Linked DNA regions of Homo sapiens: region 1 is linked to region 2. A link means that fine-mapping ties the variant in region 2 to the expression of a gene that starts in the linked region. Tissue or cell type: lung. Region 2 holds a variant in brackets; the other region holds the start of a gene. Each region is shown on its reference strand, or each on the opposite one.

What was found. PIP is the estimated chance that this variant, and not a neighbour inherited with it, causes the effect. A credible set is the group of variants that fine-mapping cannot tell apart.
Region 1: HERC5 starts here. The variant in region 2 is the best candidate, but not a certain one, in a credible set for the expression of HERC5 in lung (TOPMed, PIP 0.68).

The regions. Positions count from the first base shown.
Region 1 is chr4:88,455,559-88,458,465 of GRCh38, reverse strand. HERC5 (HECT and RLD domain containing E3 ubiquitin protein ligase 5) reads right to left here and starts at 1,347. Exons shown (of 23, transcript NM_016323.4): 1 at 932-1,347. The coding sequence starts at 1,196. All of the region lies in intron 1 of LOC102723458 (a long non-coding RNA gene), which reads left to right. RefSeq lists an enhancer at 1,288-1,717.
Region 2 is chr9:21,412,201-21,415,107 of GRCh38, reverse strand. No RefSeq gene overlaps it. Among named protein-coding and RNA genes, the nearest start is that of IFNA8, 4.5 kb to the right of the region's middle. The variant G/A (reference allele first, on the strand shown) is at 1,404.

The sequences.
Region 1 (2,907 bases), not on the chromosome of region 2:
CTAGCTCCCCTCCTACCTCAGTACTGAAAATTCCAAGCGTACGAAAAATTTTAACTTAAAAAAAAAAACCTTAAAATTACTACAAAAATGAGTACATTTTTTAAAACACTGGGAGTGTGGATAGCTTTCCAGCCTAACATAAAACCCATAAGCCTTAACAGACAAAAAAATTGACAGACTACCCCCCAAAAAATGCACTAAAAACAACATGCACAAAAGGCAAAGTGAGAAAAATATTACATGTACGACGTGCAAAAGGCTATTCTTATTCAATATTCAAATACCTCTTCCATACAAATAAGAAAAAGATTTAACAACTCAAATTTCTAAAAGCCAGGCAAAGATAAACAGGCAATTTACCGAAAAAGGAACGCAAACGTCCAGTAGTTAAACGCAAAATAAACTCGCAGCAAGATACCAATTTCTTCACTCCACAGATGGGCAAAATTTTAAAGAACGCGGGCAACTATTTCCCCCACTTCGATGAGAATGTGGGAGAAGTGCAACTGAAGGCCAAGGTAAAATCCCATCACTGAGAACGACTCCCAAAGTTGGAGCAGTGACTACTTTCTCAAAACGAGACAGTGGGAGATGCGGCGGGCGGGGGACGGGGGTACAAACTTGAACAGAAACCTATGAGAAAGCCAGACTGGCTAAAAGGATGAAGACGGTGCCCGCATGCCCCGCACCGGCCACTTTGCTGAGCGGAGGATCCGCTGGTCGCCAGTATCCCGCTCACCCCGCGCCTGACACTGACCGGGATAAAAGACAGCTCAGGTGCGCCGTCGGCGAAACTATCCGAGCCAGGCGCGCGTCTGCGGCCTTCTGGGCTCTCCTCCCTCAGGCGCGGACCCCCGGCTGCCCGCCCCTCACAGCCCTCAGCCCTCACCCCTCACAGCCCTCACAGCCCTCACACACCAGCCCCACTCACTCGGCGTCCGGGCGCCGCCGCTCCCGGCGAGCAGCTGGTGAACCTGGACGCCCGCCCCGCCGCGTTCCAAGACCGCGAGGCGCCCCGGCGAGCAGCAGAGTTGGCGCGTCACCTCCACCCTCCGGAGCAGCGCGCGGTGGAGGCCCGCGGCGCTGGGAAAGAGCCAGAGCTGTGCGCCCGGAGACTTCGCGGGCTGGGTCGCGGCGGCCTTGCCCGCGGTCGAGCGCCCGTTGCGCCGCGACTTCCTCCGCGACCTCCGCTCCATCGCCGCTTTGCGGGGTCCCAGGCCCAGAGGCGAGAGGAGAGAACGCCTGGTCCCGGGACTGAGCGCGCCCACTGCCTCAGGCGTTGCGCTGCAGAGCGGGAACCAGCTGCGCGCAGCTGCGTGGCGTCGGGGAACCGCAGCCTCAGCTACTGAGCCCCTGCCGGGACGCCACGCCCCCCACGTGCTGTTTGGGGGCGGGGCCTGCAGCTCCAGTGGAAAACGAAACATAATGTTTGTTGTTGTTTTTAGGGGGCGGAATCGAAAAGGAAAAGGAAACTGTAATGAGAGTGACTTGGCAGGCGGCCAAAGGCAACAGGTCGTTGGCTGGGGTAAAGGCCGATGGGCTGGACTGAGAAAGTGTCCCCGGGCGGGCAGCGGCCACCTTAACTCCTGGACGGAATGGCTTTCGAGGAAACGCTGCAGTTCCACTAGGAGGCACCCTGACACACGCATTTCCAGAGGGAGGGATAACGGAAGCCAAAGTTTGTTAAGCGTTGTGCGCCGCGGCCGGGCGCGGTGATTCACGCCTGTAATCCCAGCACTTTGGGGGGCCGAGGCGGGCGGATCACGACGTCAGGAGATCGAGACCATTCTGGCTAACACGGTGAAACCCCGTCTCTACTAAAAATACAAAAACAAAATTAGCTGGGCGTGGTGGCGGGCGCCTGTAGTCCCAGCTACTCGGGAGGCTGAGGTGGGAGAATGGCGGGAACCCGGGAGGCGGAGTTTGCAGTGAGCCGAGATTGCGCCACTGCACTCCAGCCTGGGCGACAGAGCGAGACTATGTATCAAAAAAAAAAATGCGTTGTGCGCCGGGCTGAAACCGGCATAAAACTGGGCAGAGCTATGCAGGCAGCTACCCTCCCCCCCACCCCTACCCCCACCCCCACCCCCCTCGTGCCCGCTCCGCTACGTATTCCCGTATTCCCGGGTGCCTGGCAACAGTGATGTGCTTTAGGCCTTTTTTAGAATGCATACAAACGGAACCATATCTAAGTGATGTCTGGCTTTTTTAACTTAGCACAATGCTTTGAGATTCATACTATTGTGTTTAATTAGTAATTCATTTGTGTTATTGTTGAATGGTAGTCTATCATATGGGTAAGCCACAGTTTATTTATCCATTCACCAATTGATGGGCCTGTCGGTTGTAGGGAACAGGAGAAAACTTCCCCTTTGCCCTCTGAAGGGTCACCGAAAATCAACTGACAAGGCTGGGCCTGGGCTCCTGCCTGTAACCCCAGCCCTTTTTTAGCCCAAGGCAGGAGGATCTCTTCTTTGTGAAGTGTGTATTCAAATCTTTTGACCATTTATTTATTAGCTAGCTTGACTTTTTATCTAAGAGTTCTTTATATATTATTGAGTTCTTTATATGTTTCATACCATGTTCTTTATTAGCTATACGTTTTGAAATGTTTTCTACCTGTCTGTGGCTTGCCTCTTCATTTTAAGTGTCTTTTGAAGCACTGAAGTTTTCAATTTTGATGTAATTTATCCATTTTTTTCTTTTACATAGTTCATACCTTTTTTGTCCTACTTAAGACATTTTTGCTAAATTCAAGATTATAAGATTTCCTCATTTGTTACCTTCTGGAAGTTTTATAATTGTTGGTCTTCATTATATTTAAAATGAATTATTCTTTATAGTATCGATAGATGCTGGAGGCAGATAAGGGAGGGTCCCTGGAGAATCTCTGACCTGCCTCACAAG
Region 2 (2,907 bases):
GACCTGCCACTGTTGCAGTCAATGTTTTAAACATCTCTATTCTCCTTCCAAGATATCAGACTGCTCCTCTTTTTTTCAACTTCTTTGTGTTGTGATGTATTCTGTTTTTTTTTGTTTTGTTTTGTTTGTTTGTTTTTAAACAAATGAGAGTCCTATGTCTGGTGCAGTCTCCTCTTAGGGGAATCAGAACATGGAAACTTCTAAACATAAGAACAGATGAGCTCCTGCATTCTTTACCAGTTCTTTGGGTCATAAGTATGGGGGAAGGCCTCCTTCCATTTACTGCATTTTGTGGCCTGACTGGACATCAGTGGGTCTGGACCCCCCACAGCTCATGAATCACCTGGCAGGAGGGGTCAAAACAAGGTCATATTCACACTCTTGCTTCCAAGGCTCTAAAAACTTAGCTGTCTCCAGCTAGTGCTGCATGGTTAGCCCTTGCCAAGTCTCCATGGGAACTGGAGTGCTTCTCCATGCTCCCTGTGGCCCTTCTCAGGTAAACTAGATGCACCTCAGCTGGGTTGGGAGTGTAGGGGGAAGTAATGTTTGGCACTACAGAGGGACCTGAATGGGTGGGGCATCTCAGCACTCACTGCCCTCCAACTTCACTCTCTGTCCTGGTCCTCCAGACCCACTGCTTGATTCCTGACTACTGTAGAACACATAACTGGTTAATAACTCCAGGATATGATGCAAGATATGGCTATAGAGATTTCCAGGGCAAGGTGACAGTTTGGAGCCAAGTCATAAAACTTTTACAACAACCTGAATATAATTTTTTTAAAGCATTGAAAAAAATGAAAGAGGTTATAACATTTGAAAGACATTATGGAGGGTAGAGCAAGGTGGCTGAATGGAGGGCACCATCGATGGTCCCACCCTCTCGGTAGGAACATCAAGTTTGACAACTGTCTATGCAAAGGGAGCATCTTCATAGGAACCAAAAATCTTGTGAACACTCACAGTGTCTGATTTTAACTCTATATCACTAAAAGAGGCACTGGAGAGGGTAGGAAAGACAGTCTTGAATTGCCATCCCCACCCTGCCTCCATCCCTAGCAGCAGCCACATGGCATGGAGAATCTGTGCACTTGGGAGAGGGAGAGTACAGTACGTGTGAGACTTTGCCTTAAATTCATGGCTGCCCTCTGACAGCAGAAAGCAGCACAGGGCTGTACTCAGCTGTGCCTGCCCATAGAGGGAGCATTTGAACCAGCCCTAGCCAGAGGGAAATGTCCTATCCCAGTGATGGGAGATTGAGTTCCAGCAAACCTCCCCACCATGGACTAAAGGGCTCTGGGACGCTAAATAAACTTGAAAGGCAGCCTAGGCCACAAGGACTGTAATTTCTAAGCAACTCCTAGTGCTGAGCTGGGTTCAGAGGCAGCGAACAGGAAGGGGGC[G/A]TGTGACCTACTGAGACACCAGCAACAAAGGTTAAAGGAGTACTTGCAACACTTCTCCCGTAACCCCAGGAAGCACAGTTCAGAACTCCAAATGAGACCCTTCCTTCTGCTTAAAGAAAGGAGAGGGAAGATGTATTACTTTGTTTTCATGCTGCTAATAAAGACATACCTGAAACTAGGAACAAAAGGTTTAATTGGACTTACAGTTAGTTCCACATGGCTGGGGAGGCCTCAGAATCACGGCAGGAGGTGAAAGGCACTTCTTGCATGGTGCTGGCAAGAGAAAAATGAGGAATTAGCAAAAGGAGAAACCCTTGATAAACCCATCAGATCTCATGAGACTTATTCACTATCACGAGAACACCATGGGAAAGACCGACCCCCATGATTCAATTACCTCCCCGTTGGTCACTCCTAAATTTCTCCATCCTCCCCTCTAGAGGACAGAAGAAGACTGCAAACAATACAATTTTTTGTAATTTGTCTAAGGCCCTGGTCAACTCCCAGTCTGAAAGCAGCAAATCCAGATGTTGAGTGTGTAGCTGGAGGAAAAGACTCAAGAGGCCCCTGTGCAGTTGTAGGCTCTCCCTCCCTGCTACCTCAGCAATTCACACACACTTCCTAGTGAAATAACTCCAGAATATATGGTGTCAATTATAGGAATGCCTCTCAATCTCTACCAAAATTGATACATTTGAATAAATAGACCTCGCCAGCTCTCAGGGAACAGTAATGCTATTCTTTCACATTCCTTAGCTTCTATGGGAATTCTTCCTTTTTCTAACTGGGCAGGGGTTTTACTGTTGAGTGGAAGAACTGGAAAGATCATTATTCAAAATGACAGTGAGAAAATGTTTTAATTTGTTAATGTTTGAACTCTGATATTAGGATTAAATCTGTGAAATTAAGATTGTACTGCTGGTTTAATGCACCATTAAACATGAGGTTTCTGTGAATAGTATTAAGTTCCAATACAAAACGGCAGCCCTACCTGTGCCCTGGAGTCCCAATGTATGAGGATGGGGTGATCCTGGGGAGTAGACTGTTCTGCACAGTAGGGTGGGCAGATATTACATCTCTGTGTCCCTATCACTGCGAATCCCAAGGAGTCCATGCCTTGACTGTACCTGGAAACTCATTCTCTTTGTAATAGACCAGGGATAAGGAACAAACTTGGACAACATTAGCGTCTCTTCTCGCCAATAAGTAGCTTTTTTGCAGCACAAAGAGAAATCTCCAGAACTGGTAGGATTTCTCCATAGATCAGAAACCTGCCCTCCAGTCTTGGTTGCTGCTCTTGTTACACTTGGTCCCAGGGGACTGTCTTTTTTATTTAACTTCTGCTTTCTACTTTTACTTTTCTGCTATTTAGGGAAACCATGAAGCCAGAACCACAACAGAACAGAAAGCAGCTCTGTGTGAATGGGCAGAAGGATAAAGGGAGTGAATGATCAAGGAAACCCTGGTGATATGAGACTGCATCCTGGAATGCTGAGAGCCAGGG